4 linked regions of the Homo sapiens genome follow. The protein of the gene in region 4 purifies or fractionates together with the protein of the main gene of each other region. This does not show direct contact. Each region holds a gene or a part of one and is shown on either strand. Other genes may lie near its edges.

Region 1 (3,500 bases), on a different chromosome or scaffold from region 4:
ATTAAATCAGGCAAATCAACATATCCATCACCTCACATGCTTAGCATTACTTTGTGGTTAGAACATTTAAAATCTACTTTTAGCAATTTTGAAATAGCTAATACATTATTAATTATAGTCACCATGCTATGCAATATGTCACCTAGAACTTATTCCTCCTGTCTAAGTGAACTTTATATCCTTTGACCAACATCTCCCCTATCCCCATACACCACCACAACTTCTGGTAACCACCATTCTACTCTTGGTTTCTACGAGTTCAATTTTTTAAGATTCCACATGAAAATGAGATTATGTGGTAACTGTCTTTCTGTGTCTGGCTTATTTCACTTAGTATAACATCCTCTAGATTCATCCATATTGTCACAAATGACAGAGTTTCCTTTTTTAAGGCTGAATAGTATTCCAATGTGTGTATTTACCACATTTCTTTTTCTTTTTTTTTTGAGATGGAGTTTCACTCTTGTTGCCCAGGCTGGAGTGCAATGGCATGATCTCAGCTCACTGCAACCTCTGCCTCCCAGGTTCAAGTGATTCTCCTGCCTCTGCCTCCCGAGTAGCTGGGATTACAGGCATGAACTACTACACCCAGCTAATTTTGTATTTTCAGCAGAGACGGGGTTTCTCCATGTTGGTCAGGCTGGTCTCGAACTCCCGACCTCAGGTGATCCGCCCGCCTCGGCCTCCCAAAGTGTTGGCACTACAGGTATGAGCCACTGCACCCGGCTACCACATTTTCTTTATCCATTCATCCATTGATGGGCAATTTTTAGGCTGTTTCTATATCTTGGCTATTGTGAAATAATCATGGGAGTGCAGCTATCTCTGACACACTGATTTCAATTCCTTTAGATATAAACCCAGAAGTGGGATTGCTGAATCATATGGTAATTCTATTTTTAGTTTTTTGAGGAACCTCCATGTTTTCAAAAATGGCTGTGCTAATTTACATTCCCACCAGTAGTGTACAAGGGTTCTTTCTCTTTTCTCTACATCTTGCAAACACTTTTGTCTTTTTTATAATAGCTATCTACTTACAACATGGACTATGACAGAAACTTCTGTTACATTAAAATACATTGGTCTATCCTGTGCACTGACTGGATCTTTTACTTATGAATATTTTAATATCAAGCATTGATTATTTGGAAACTACTGGTTGAGTTATGCAAATCTTCCAAATGTTGACATTTTCCACCACACATTATAAAAAATTTTTGTTATTCTCACCACTTATCTCATCAGAAAAGTCTTTAAGTATTAATATATTAGAAAGCTGCCGTGGCTGGACATTGTGGCTCATGCCTGTAATCCCAGCACTTTGGGAGGCTGAGGTGGGCGGGTTGCTTGAGCCCAGGAATTCAAGACCAGCCTGGGCAACATGGCAAAACCCTGCCTCTACTAAAAACACAAAAATTAGCCTGGCATGGTGGCACACACCTGTAGTACCAGCTACTCAGGAGGCTGAGGTGGAAGAATCACCTGAGCCCAAGAGGCAGAAGTTGCAGCGAGCCAGGATGATCACGCCACTGCACTCCAGCCTGGGTAACAGAGTAACACCTTATCAAAAAAAAAAAAAAGAAAAGAAAAGAAAAAAAGAAAAAGCTTCAACCACATAGTGCCAGATATATGTTTCTAAAAATTCTAATTTTCACTTGACATTTCATATTTTATCAATGGCAATAGATGGTGTCAGTTGTTTAACATGACAGGCTTAATTTGTTCGCTTTGGAAAAAATGTGCGCCAAATAACCAAAAACCAGTCTTGAGTAATCAATAACTAATAACCAATAACCAGTCTGATAATCACAGCATATCTGTAAATGGTCCATTCAAGCAAAAATAGTATTCCATAAAAAGCAATGAATTCAGCTGGCAACTTAAATAACTGCACAAGTGCTTTTCCTAAAGACAACTATCTTATTCAATATGCAGCAGTACTTTATATTTATTTTCCCTTTTATCATGAAGAACACAAAATATTACCCAAAGATGAAGATTTAACAAAATTAATAATTTTTACTGTTTCACCAAGGACTTTATAGTGAAACTGACTTTTTTTTTTTTTACACTGCAAGTATGTGGCAGTCAAGAACGCAATGGCTACTAACTAGCACCGTTTCATGCCACTAATGCTGATTCACACTACAGTGCAAGTAATTTAATTTTACCCATGGTGCTCTTGCACCATCAGCACAAATGTCAACACAGTGGAAGAGCCAAACAACATTTTAGTTTTTTGTTTTGTGTCATTGTGGGGCTACATATGTCAAGCAGTATGCTATAGGTACATTTGCTTTATATAAAAAAATTTTTTTTTTTTTTTTTTTTTTTGAGAAGGAGTCTCACTCTGTCAGCCAGGCTGGAGTGCAGTGGGGCAATCTCGGCTCACTGCAACCTCTGCCTCCCAGGTTCAAGCAATTCTCCTGCCTCAGCTTCCCGAGTAGCTGGGATTACAGGTGCACGCCACCACGCCTGGCTCATTTTTGTATTTTTAGTAGAGACAGGGTTTCATCATGTTGGTTGGCCAGGCTGCTCTCAAACTCCTGACCTCTGGTGATCTGCCTGCCTCGGCCTCCCGAAGTGCTGGGATTACAGGTGTGAGCCACTGCGCCTGGCTTAACATTTCAGTATTATAAAGTAGTTTTGACCTTACAGAGTCCATGAAAGCACCTCTGGGTCTGTGAACCACAATTTGAGGACTGTTGCACTAGAATCACATGGCCTGTTAAGATAAATGTACTGTGAGGCACAAATGCACTAAGCATGCCTCAAAGAACAGTAGACATAAATATCCTATCTCATTCTCACTCTGAAGAGAGGAGAAGTTGGAACTGCCCACATCAAATTTCCACCTTATGGCCAGGCGCAGTGGTTTATGCTTGTAATCCCAACATTTTGGGAGGCTAAGGTGGGCAGATCGCTTGAGTCCAGGAGTTTGAGATAGCCTGAGCAATATGGCAAAATTGCTTCTCTACAAAACATACAAAAATTAACCAGACATGGTGATGCACGCCTGCAGTCCCAGCTACGTGGGAGACTGAGGTGGGAGAATCACTTGAGCCCGGAAGGCAGAGGTTGCAGTTAGCCCAGATTGTGCCACTGCACTACAGCCTGGGCAACAGAGTGAGACCGTGTCTCAAAAAAATAAAAATAAAAAAATTGTCTTTTTTTTTTTAATTCCTTAATTCATTTATCTTATTGGTGGAGTAGAAATAATTCAATACCAACCTGGTGGTCCATATAACAAACAGCCTTTTGGAGGTATTATTCCTACACGCTGAAATAACTCTGGGTTTGTAAGAGGTAATTCTATCACCTAGAAAAGAAGTTAAATCTTTCTTAAAAAGTTAGTCAAGATTTTTAATGTACTTTCAAATACTCTAAGTCAAATATCACCTTAGTTAGGTGTACACATCATAATTCTTAATAGACCTAGACTTCCATGCTAGGTAAAACCATTTATATTAAGAGGTTTTGCTCCAGGTAGATTTAAGATC
Region 2 (3,500 bases), on a different chromosome or scaffold from region 4:
ACAGGCGTGAGCCACCACACCTAGCCATCTTTTTCTTATGACAGTATCACTCTTTTGCCTAGGCTGAAGTGTAGTGGTGCAATCAGGGTTCACTGCAGCCTCAACCTCCCAGGCTCGAGTGATCCTTCCACCTTGGCCTCTCGAGTAGCTGGGACTATAAGCGCACGCCCCCAAGTCTGGGTAATCTTTTTTTTTTTTTTTTTTGAGACAGAGTCTTGCTCTGTTGCCCAGGCTGGAGTGCAGTGGCACAATCTTGGCTCACTGCAAGCTCTGCCTCCCGGGTTCACGCCATTCTCCTGCCTCTGCCTCCCGAGTAGCTGGGACTACAAGCGCCCGCCACCATGCCCAGCTAATTTTTTGTATTTTTAGTAGAGATGGGGTTTCACTGTGTTAGCCAGGATGGCCTCGATCTCCTGACCTCGTGATCCACCTACCTTGGCCTCCCAAAGTGCTGGGATTATAGGCGTGAGCCACTGCACCCGGTTAAGCCTGGCTAATTTTATTTTGTAGAGATAGGGTTTTGCCATGTTGCTCAGGTTGGTCTTGAACTCCTGGGCAAGCACTCCACCTGCCTCGGCCCCTGAAAGTGCTGGGATTACTGGTGTGACTGTGCCCCATCCTCTTTTATGTTTATCCAACTTAGATCCCTTTAGCTGCAACTGAGGCCCCTCCCTTTTGTGTTTTTTTTTGAGATAGGAGTCTCACCACCACACCCTGCTAATCCTTATATTTTTAGTAGAGATGGGGTTTCATCATGTTGGTCAGGCTGGTCTGGAACTCCTGACCTCAGGTGATCCAACTGCCTCAGCCTCCCAAAGTACTGGGATTACAGGCATGAGCCACTGTGCCCGGCCTGGCCCCTCCCCACTTTTTTTTTTTTTTTGAGACAGAGTCTCGCTGTCGCCCAGGCTGGAGTACAGTGGTGCAATCTCGGCTCACTGCAGGCTCCGCCTCCCGGGTTCACACCATTCTCCTGCCTCAGCCTCCCGAGTAGCTGGGACTACAGGCGCCCACCACCATGCCTGGCTAATTTTTTGTATTGTTTAGTAGAGACAGGGTTTCACCGTGTTAGCCAGGATGGTCTCGATCTCCTGACCTCATGATCCGCCCGCCTCAGCCTCCCAAAGTGCTGGGATTACAGGAGTGAGCCACCGCGCCCGGCCAGCCCCTCCCTTTTTTTAAAAAAGGAGATGGGGTCTTGCTATGTTGCCCAGGCTGGCCTCGAACTCCTGGGCTCAAGAAATCCTCCCAAATTAGCCTCTGATGTAGCTGGCACTATACGTACGTGCCACCATGCCTGTCTGCCATTTTGTTTTGACCCAGCGACCATAAGAAGTTTCTTTTTTTTTTTTTTTGAGACGGAGTCTCGCTCTTTCGCCCAGGCTGGAGTGCAATGCTGCTATCTTGGCTCACTGCAAGCTCCATCTCCTGGGTTCACGCCATTCTCCTGTCTCAGCCTCCTGAGTGGCTGGGACTACAGGTGGCCGCCACCGTGCCTGGCTAATTTTTTGTATTTTTAGTAGAGACGGGGTTTCACCGTGTTAGCCAGGATGGTCTCGATCTCCTGACCTCATGATCCGCCCGCCTCGGCCTCCCAAAGTGCTGGGATTACAGGCGTGAGCTACTGCGCCCGGCCGACCATAAGAAGTTTCTAAGTCAGCCTTTTTTTTTCCTTTTCTGAGATGAAGTCTCATTCTGTCACCCAGGCTGCAGTGCAGTGGTATGATCTCGGCTCACTGCAAACTCCGCCTCCTCGGTTCAAGTCATTCTCCTGCCTCAGCCTCTCGAGTAGCTAGGATTACAGGCGTATGCCACCACAACTGGCTAATTTTTGTATTTTTAGTAGAGACGGGGGTTCACCATCTTGGCCAGGCTGGTCTCGAACCCCTGATCTCAGATGAACCGCCCACCTTGGCCCCCAAAGTGCTAGGATTATAGGCGTGAGCCACCGTGCCCAGCTATGTCAGCCTTCTCAGAAGGGACTTCATGCTAAACCTGTGTGTTTCCCGTCCGTCTTCCTTCTTTGTGTACTTGTTTGGTGAGAGAATGATCTAGAACACCCTCATTTCTGATTCCCTTCTAGGCACCGAGATCATTCAACCAAGGAAATCCACTGAGCAGGATAATGCTGCAGCACACACCTCGCTTAGTTCAGGGAAATTGTCCTGCTGACAGAAGGGGCACTGCCACAGCCCTGTCTCATCATTGCGGATCGCCTGGTCATAGCTCTCACCCTGGGGACGCCTGTGGGCAATGCCAGTGACATTGCAGATGATGAGCTTTCCTGCAAGAAGGAAAAGAGGATGGGGAGCAGGCTCAGAGAATGTGGAGAGCACTTCTTTCCACCAGCCTTTCAGTGACAGAATATCTGACTTCCTTCCCATCCTTGAAGAGGGAACTCTTCCCGATTTTTATTTATTTATTTATTTTTGAGATGAAGTCTTGCTCTGTTGCCCAGGCTGCAGTGCAGTGGTGCTATCTTGGCTGACTGTAACCTCTGCCTCCCAGGTTCAAGGAATCCTCCTGCCTCAGCCTCCCGAGTAGCTGGGATTACAGGTGCCCACCACCACGCTCAGCTAATTTTTTATTTTTAGTGGAGATGGGGTTTCACCATGTTGCCCAGACTGGTCTCGAACTCCTGGCCTCAAGCAGTCTGCCTGCCCTGGCCTCCCAAAGTGCTGGGATTACAGGCATGAGCCACTGTGCCTGGCCGTTCCCCTGATTTGATGATAGGGGAAAATAAAGCCTATAAGAAGACTAACTGCATGAAGATTCCATAGCACACTGGAAGCACATTTGACCTTAAATTCAGTTTTGATTTCCAGTCCAGGACTCTTTAGTCTTTTAAAATGCTCTCCTGGCCTTCCCCATGTACAACACAAACCTGCCTCAATCTGTTGGAACTGCTGCTTGGTTTGAATGTACACAGTAAACACACCTCCTGCCCCCAATAAAAAAATGACCCCAGAATTTACCAATGTAGAAGGTCTCTGGTGTTTCTTTGGTTAACATATTGAAGATCTCCTCTGTGTTGGGAGAGCGGTAGGCTGTCCGGAGGTCCTTATATCGACAGCTCAGCTCTGCCCGGATGTCATAGAGTGTGATGTGTTTGTCACCATAGCCCTGGGGAAGAAGCCCATCAAGAAGAGCCTTGCAGCTGCCCCCCAACCTGAGCCTCAAGGAGTCCCGTGGAAGGGGCGGGCCTCTCCAGATGGGAGTAAGTTTCTGTCAGGGCTTCTTCTTTTCTTTCCATCAACATTTACTAAAGGTGGTTTTCAAACTTAGCCATGAAACACTGTAATCAAAATGCTTTATGGAACCCCAATGAGTCCACAGATAAATGCAAAGCTGTGCTGTTAGAAAGGAGGAAAGGGGGCCTAGACGGAAACTGTAGTACTGACATCCTCCCAACTCCCTCCTGCCCCTTGTAATTATGGTGGCAATCTCTGAGACTTCCCTGGCTCCTTAACAAGCAGACCAAAAACTTCCTTGAGGAGCCC
Region 3 (3,500 bases), on a different chromosome or scaffold from region 4:
CTCAGACCCAGGAGTCTGGACCCCCAGCCTCTCCTCCCTCAGACCCAGGAGTCCAGGCCGCCAGCCCCTCCTCCCTCAGACCCAGGAGTCTGGACCCCCAGCCCCTCCTCCCTCAGACCCAGGAATCCGGGCCCCAGCCCCTCCTCCCTCAGACCCAGGAATCCGGGCCCCAGCACCTCCTCCCTCAGACCCAGGAGTCCAGGCCCAGCCCCTCCTCCCTCAGACCCAGGAGTCCAGGCCCCAGCCCCTCCTCCCTCAGACCCAGGAATCCAGGCCCCAGCACCTCCTCCCTCAGACCCAGGAGTCCAGGCCCAGCCCCTCCTCCTTCAGACCCAGGAGTCCAGGCTCCCAGCCCCTCCTTCCTCGGACCCAGTTGTCCACGCCCAGCTCCCTCCTCCCTTGGACCCAGGAGCTGGGTCTCCAGGCCCCTCCTCCCCTGACACCCTCAAGTCTCTACCCCCTGCCTCACCTGTGCACCCTGGCTCTGGGCCTCACGCACAAAGCGCTGGACCAGGTCACATGCGGCAGCCCCCCGGGCCCCCATGTCCACGGCCCCATCCAGCCCTCGGCCACTCCGAAGCCGCCCCATCCGCTCCTGCAGCCGTCTCATGGCTTCATCCCACACAGACTCCTGGATGAGGAGCCTGAGGCCACCCTGTGAGGAAAAGGGGCATCAGGAGATCACACCATTGCACTCTAGCAAGTTGGTGATCTGAAGAGTGAAGACAGAGGCTGGAAAACTAGGGACATGGACACTCAGATAAATCAACAGAGTCCTAAAGAACAGAGAGGCCGGATGCGGTGGCTCACACCTGCAGTCCCAGCACTTTGGGAGGCCGAGGTGGGCGGATCACCTGAGGTCAGGAGTTCGAGACCAGCCTGGCCAACATGGTGAAACCCCGTCTCTACTAAAAATACATAAATTAGCCAGGCATGGTGGTGCCCGCCTGTAATCCCAGCTACTCGGGAGGCTGAGGCAGCTACTCCCAGGCTGAACCTGGGAGGCAGAGGTTGCGGTGAGCCAAAATCGCGCCGCTGCACCCCAGCCTGGGCGACAAGAGTGAAACTCCGTCTCAAAATAAATAAAATAAAATAAAATAAAATGAACAGAGACTCGGGACCCCGAAGACTGGAGACAGACACCAACGGCCTCCAGGGTATGAGGAGACGGGAGCGCACGGGTCTCACCGGGCCGCGGTCGGACCAGGCGGCGTCCACGACACCCTCCACGGCCGAGTCTACGTCCGCCGTGTCCGTCAGCAGCAGCAGCGACTCCGTCCCCAGCGCCAGGCCCAGCTCCGCACACTCTCCCGCCAGGCTCCGTCGAAGGGCACGCCCTTCCTAGGGACCCCCCCCAGTTCAGCCGCAGGAGGAGCCTTGCGGCCCCCAGCCGCGTTCCGCCACGACCCCTGTCCCGAAGGTACCTCCGGGGCTCCGCAGAAGGCCACCTTCCGGATTCCAGGCTGGGAGGCCAGGATGGGCACCAGGGACGCAGGGCCACTGAGGACATTCAGGATTCCCGGGAAGGGGCCCAGCTCCCCCGCCAGCTGGGCCAGGAGGAGGGGCGCCGGGGAGGCCGGGGGCACGAGGGCCACCACGGTGCAGCCTGGGGAAGTGGGGCAGCTCAAAGGCCCAGGAGTCCAGGCCCAGCCCCTCCTCCCTCAGACCCAGGAATCTGGACCCCCAGCCCCTCCTCCCTCAGACCCAGGAGTCCAGACTCCAGCCCCTCCTCCCTCAGACTCAGGAGTCCAGGCCCCCAGCCCCTCCTCCCTCAGACCCCGGAGTCCAGGCCCAGCCCCTCCTCCCTCAGACCCAGGAGTCCAGACTCCAGCCCCTCCTCCCTCAGACCCAGGAGTCCAGACTCCAGCCCCTCCTCCCTCAGACCCAGGAGTCCAGGTCCCAGCCCCTCCTCCCTCAGACCCAGGAGTCCAGGTCCCAGCCCCTCCTCCCTCAGACCCAGGAGTCCAGACCCCAGCCCCTCCTCCCTCACACCCAGGAGTCCAGACCCCAGCCCCTCCTCCCTCAGACCCAGGAATCCAGACCCCAGCCCCTCCTCCCTCAGACCCAGGAGTCCAGACTCCAGCCCCTCCTCCCTCAGACTCAGGAGTCCAGACTCCAGCTCCTCCTCCCTCAGACTCAGGAGTCCAGACTCCAGCTCCTCCTCCCTCAGACCTAGGAGTTCAGACCCGCAGCCCCTCCTCCCACAGACTCCTTCCACAGAGTCCAGGCCTCCAGCCCCCTTGTCTCTCAGACTCTGGAGTTTGGGCCCCACGATCCCCTCCTTTCTCAGACCCAAGAGTCAGGACCCCCCAGGCCATCATTTACCCACAGCCAGGGCAGGGCAAATCCTCCACATCATCTCAAGGAAGGAGAATGTGGGTGGCAGGATGAGGCCAATTACTCCTGCAAGAAAAAAATGAGGCAAGAGGATCCCTTGAGGCTAGGTGTTTAAGTCCAGCCTGGGCCACATGGCAAGACCCCATGGCTACATTAGGAAAAAAAAAAAAAAATGGCCGGGTGTGGTGGCTCACGCCTGTAATCTCAGCACTTTGGGAGGTCGAGGTGGGCGGATCACCTGAGGTGGGAAGTTCGAGACCAGCCTGACCAACATGGAAAAACCCCATCTCCACTAAAAACACAAAATTAGCCAGGCGTGGTGGTGCATGCCTGTAGTCCCAGCTACTCGGGAGGCTGAGGCAGGAGAATCACTTGAACACGGGAGGCGGAGGTTCCAGTGAGCCGAGATCGCACCACTGCACTCCAGCCTGGGCAACAAAGAGCGAAACTCCATCTCAAAAAAAAAAAAAACAAAAACAAAAACTAGTCAGGTGTGGTGGTGCATGGTCGTAGTCCCAGTTACTTGGGAGGCTGAGGTGGGAGGATTTTGAGCCCAGGAGGTCGAGGTATCAGTGAGCTATAATTGCACCACTGTACTCCAGCCAGGGTGACAGAGAAAGACCCTGTCTGAAAAAGAAAAAAACAAAAACAAAAACAAAAGAAAAAGAATGAGGGGACCGGGCACGGTGGCTCATGCCTGTAATCCCAGCACTTTGGGATGCCAAGGCAGGTGAATCATCTGAGGTTAGGAGTTTGAGACCAGCCTGACCAACATGATGAGACCCCTCTTCTCTAATAAAAATATAACAATTAGCCAGGTGTGGTGGTGGGTGCCTGTAATTCCAGCTACTCAGGAGGCTGAGGCAGGAGAATCACTTGAACCCGGGAGGCGGAGGTTATAGTGAGCCAAGATTGCGCCACTGCACTCCGGCCTGGGCGACAAGAGCGAAACTCTGTCTAAAAGAAAAAGAATGAGGGGACTGGAGCTAGCACTGCTGAGTCATGTGGGAGGATAGGGCTAGGGACTCCAGGGTCTCACCCATGGGCTCCCAGCCTGCCAGTGCCTCCTCCTGGGTGGATGCCTGGATTGCATGGTAGTGGAGCAGCTGCTGGGCCAGCTGGACGTCCCCGTCTCGAACCTCTCGAACAGCCCGCCCAGTCAC
Region 4 (3,500 bases):
TGCAGAGATCACATGGTGAGAGAGGAAGTAAGAGAGAGAAGGGAGATGCCAGGATCTTTTTAACAATCAGCTTTCTCAGGAAAGAACAGAGTGAGAACTCAGTCACTCTCACTCTCCAGGGAGGACATTAATCTATTCATGAGGGGTCTGCCCCCATGACCCAAACACCCCCCATTAGGCCCTACCTCCAACACTGAGGATTAAATTTCAACATGAGATTTGGAGGGGTCAAACATACACACTATAGCACTAAACTCTAATTTGAAAGGGAATACACTTTCAAGACTAAAATACATTTTCTTTTTTTTTTTTTTTTTTTTTTTTTTGAGATGGAGTCTTGCTCTGTCGCCCAGGCTGGAGTGCAGTGGCGTGATCTCAGCTCACTGGAATCTCCACCTCCTGGGTTCACACCATTCTCCTGCTTCAGCCTCCGAACAGCTGGGACTACAGGCACCCGCCACCATGTCGGCTAATTTTTTGTATTTTTAGTAGAGATGGGGTTTCACCATGTTAGCCAGAATGGACTCGATCTCCTGACCTCGTGATCCACTCGCCTCAGCCTCCCACAGTGCTGGGATTACAGGCGTGAGCCACCGCGCCTGGCCTGACTAAAATACATTTTCAAGACTAAAAGCTAAGAACAAAGATTTAGAGATTTGATACAGCATTTGTAGAGAGGGCTTTTAGAGTGATCTCAACCTGATGTAACTGGCTGTGAAATGTAATTCTTCCAGGATGAAAGGTGAAGATCAGTATGCATACATGTATTTATCTACAGTATATACACATAATACATAGTAAAGAATTAAGCTTCAGTAACCTGTAAAATTTGCCTAAGTAGAATACTGATTTTGCAGAGATATGGGCTAAGTAAGATACTATCCTACACATAAACACACGCAGATGATAGAATGAAGTTAAAAACTGTTTCCATTCTTCTTCTACACCTTATATATTCATGTCTATAACAGCCCATAACACACTGTTTACATGTCTGACTTGCCCAACAGACTGTGAAGTCCTTAAGTCTAGCAGGGTGCTACATTCATTTATTATTCAGTAAATAAATGTTGAGCCAAACTGAAGTTACAGGAGAGAAGCAGAAATCATCATGGATTCACACAAGAGTGGGAGGGATTTTTTTTTTTTTTTTTTTGAGATGGAGTTTCACTCTTGTCGCCCAGGCTGGAGTACAATGGCGTGATCTCAGCTCACTGCAACCTCCACCTCCTGGGTTCAAGCAGTTCTCATGACTCAGCCTCCCAAGTACCTGGGATTAAAGGCACGTGCCACCACACCTGGCTAATTTTTGTATTTTTAGTAGAGACGGGGTTTCACCATATTGGCCAGGCTGGTCTTGAGCTCCTCCCCTCAGGTGATCCACCCACCTCAACCTCCCGAAGTGCTGGGATTACAGGTGTGAGCCACCACGACCAGGCCGGGAGGGCTTTCTAGAGAGTATAGGAGCCTCAAAGAAAGATAGGAGCTGGCTAGGAAGAAAATAGGGAAAAGAAAACTCCAAGTCAAGGAGGAGCATATCAAGAATAAAAGAAAGTCAGCCGGGCATGGTGGCTCACACCTGTAATCTCAGCACTTTGGGAGCCCAAGGTGGGTGGATCACAAGGTCAGGAGTTCAAGACCAGCCTGGCCAACATAGTGAAACCTCTTCTCTACTAAAAATACAAAAATTAGCCAGGTGTGGTGGCACGTGCCTGTAGTCCCAGCTATGATACTCAGGAGGCTGAAGCAGGAGAATACCTTGAACCTGGCAAGCAGAGGTTGCAGTGAGCCGAGACCACGCCATTGCACTCCAGCCTGGGTGACAGAGTGAGACTCCATCTCAAAAAAAAAGAATATCACGCCTGTAATCCCAGCACTTTGGGAGGCCGAGGCGGGTGGATCACGAGGTCAGGAGATCGAGACCATCCCGGCTAAAACGGTGAAACCCCGTCTCTACTAAAAATACAAAAAATTAGCCGGGCGTAGTGGCGGGCGCCTGTAGTCCCAGCTACTTGGGAGGCTGAGGCAGGAGAATGGCGTGAACCCGGGAGGCGGAACTTGCAGTGAGCCGAGATCCCGCCACTGCACTCCAGCCTGGGCGACAGAGCGAGACTCCGTCTCAAAAAAAAAAAAAAGAATAAAAGAAAGTCAAAAAGAACAAGAAGGAAGGATTCATCAATTAATACACCAGTTTGGTAATAGCAGTCATGGAAATGATAGTTGAGGGATAAATCCCAGAGAAACTCAAAGTCTAGGGTAGAAGTTTGGCCTAGAGAAGACCTAGTAAAGACGCTTTTCACAGGGAAGTATCATGAAGCACTATTTCAGAAAGATGCCACAAAAACAGAACTGAAGCAACTTCACTTTTTATCCCACTCCATGATTCCCTATTGTGTTTACCAACTGCCTTAAGAAGTCTGGCCCTCATGGTGCATCATTTCAACCAATCACTCAATGACTTCTCCACATTTGTGGATGTATATATATGTATTTTTTTAATATTTGAGACAGGGTCTCGCTCTGTCACCCAGGCTGGAGTGCAGTGGTATGATCATGGTTCACTGCAGCCTCTATCTCCCAGAATCAAGGGATTCTCCCGCCTCAGCTTCCTGAGTAGCCTGCATGCCACCATGCCCAGCTATTTTTTTTATTTTTATTTTTAGTAGAGACAGAGTCTCACTATGTTGCTCAGACTGGTCTCGAACTGCTGGGCTCAAGCAATCCTTCTGCCTCAGCCTCCCAAAGTGCTTGGATTACAGGGTGAGTTACCCTGCCCAGCTGACTTCTCTACATTTGTGAAGTCACTAAAATGACCTCAGCCTTGGTTTTCTCTATATAATAGCAGAACTAGGATCAATCCAACCACTTACCTTCTACATTCCTACATGCAGGCTGCTGAGTACTGCTCCAGAAAAGAACACAACTGTGCCGACTGTCACCAATCCAATTCATGTTTCTAAACTCAGCAGTTTTGTAATCCTTTCACCCCTCCCATTCCCCACAGCAGCTGGTTCTCATGCCATCTATCCTGCCATCAAAATCTCCTTCCTTCATAATAGCCAAAAACTAGAAATATGTGTCCATTAATTGATGAATGGATAAACAAAATGTAGTATATCCATACAACAGAGTATTACCGGGCCACAAAAAGGAACGAAGTACTGATAAAAACAACAAATAGAAACATTATACTAAGTTGCCTGTAATCCCAGCACTTTGGGAGGCCGAGGTGGGAGGATCACTTGAGGCCAAGAGTTCAAGACCAGCCTGGCCAACATGTCGAAACCTCGTTCGTCTCTACTGAAAATACAAAAATTACCCGGGTGTGGTGGCAGGCGCCTGTAATCCCAACTACTCAGGAGGCTGAGGCACAAAAATCACTTGAACCTGGGAGGTGAAGGCTGCAGTGAGGAGCCGAGATTGTGCCACTATACTTCAGCCTAGACGACACAGTGAGACTCTCAAAAAAAAAAGAAAGAAAGAAACATTATACTAAGTGA

The links. The genes of interacting proteins can lie anywhere in the genome.
Region 1: the proteins of PAAF1 (region 4) and PSMC6 purify together in Homo sapiens (affinity purification with western blotting; 3 studies listed by BioGRID and IntAct, with this or other methods). This does not show direct contact.
Region 2: the proteins of PAAF1 (region 4) and SUPT6H purify together in Homo sapiens (affinity purification with western blotting; one study listed by BioGRID). This does not show direct contact.
Region 3: the proteins of PAAF1 (region 4) and ALDH16A1 purify together in Homo sapiens (affinity purification with mass spectrometry; one large-scale study listed by BioGRID and IntAct). This does not show direct contact.

What each region holds. Positions count from the first base shown.
Region 1 is NC_000014.9:52,713,700-52,717,199, reverse strand, and holds part of PSMC6 (26S proteasome regulatory subunit 10B), read right to left. Parts: intron 3,320-3,500; coding exon 3,232-3,319; intron 1-3,231. UniProt on the Homo sapiens protein: Component of the 26S proteasome, a multiprotein complex involved in the ATP-dependent degradation of ubiquitinated proteins.
Region 2 is NC_000017.11:28,689,705-28,693,204, reverse strand, and holds part of SUPT6H (transcription elongation factor SPT6), read right to left. Parts: intron 3,124-3,500; coding exon 2,976-3,123; intron 2,285-2,975; coding exon 2,142-2,284; intron 1-2,141.
Region 3 is NC_000019.10:49,459,725-49,463,224, reverse strand, and holds part of ALDH16A1 (aldehyde dehydrogenase family 16 member A1), read right to left. Parts: coding exon 3,377-3,500; intron 2,404-3,376; coding exon 2,326-2,403; intron 1,607-2,325; coding exon 1,425-1,606; intron 1,342-1,424; coding exon 1,189-1,341; intron 656-1,188; coding exon 470-655; intron 1-469.
Region 4 is NC_000011.10:73,883,499-73,886,998, reverse strand, and holds part of PAAF1 (proteasomal ATPase-associated factor 1), read right to left. Parts: intron 1-3,500. UniProt on the Homo sapiens protein: Inhibits proteasome 26S assembly and proteolytic activity by impairing the association of the 19S regulatory complex with the 20S core.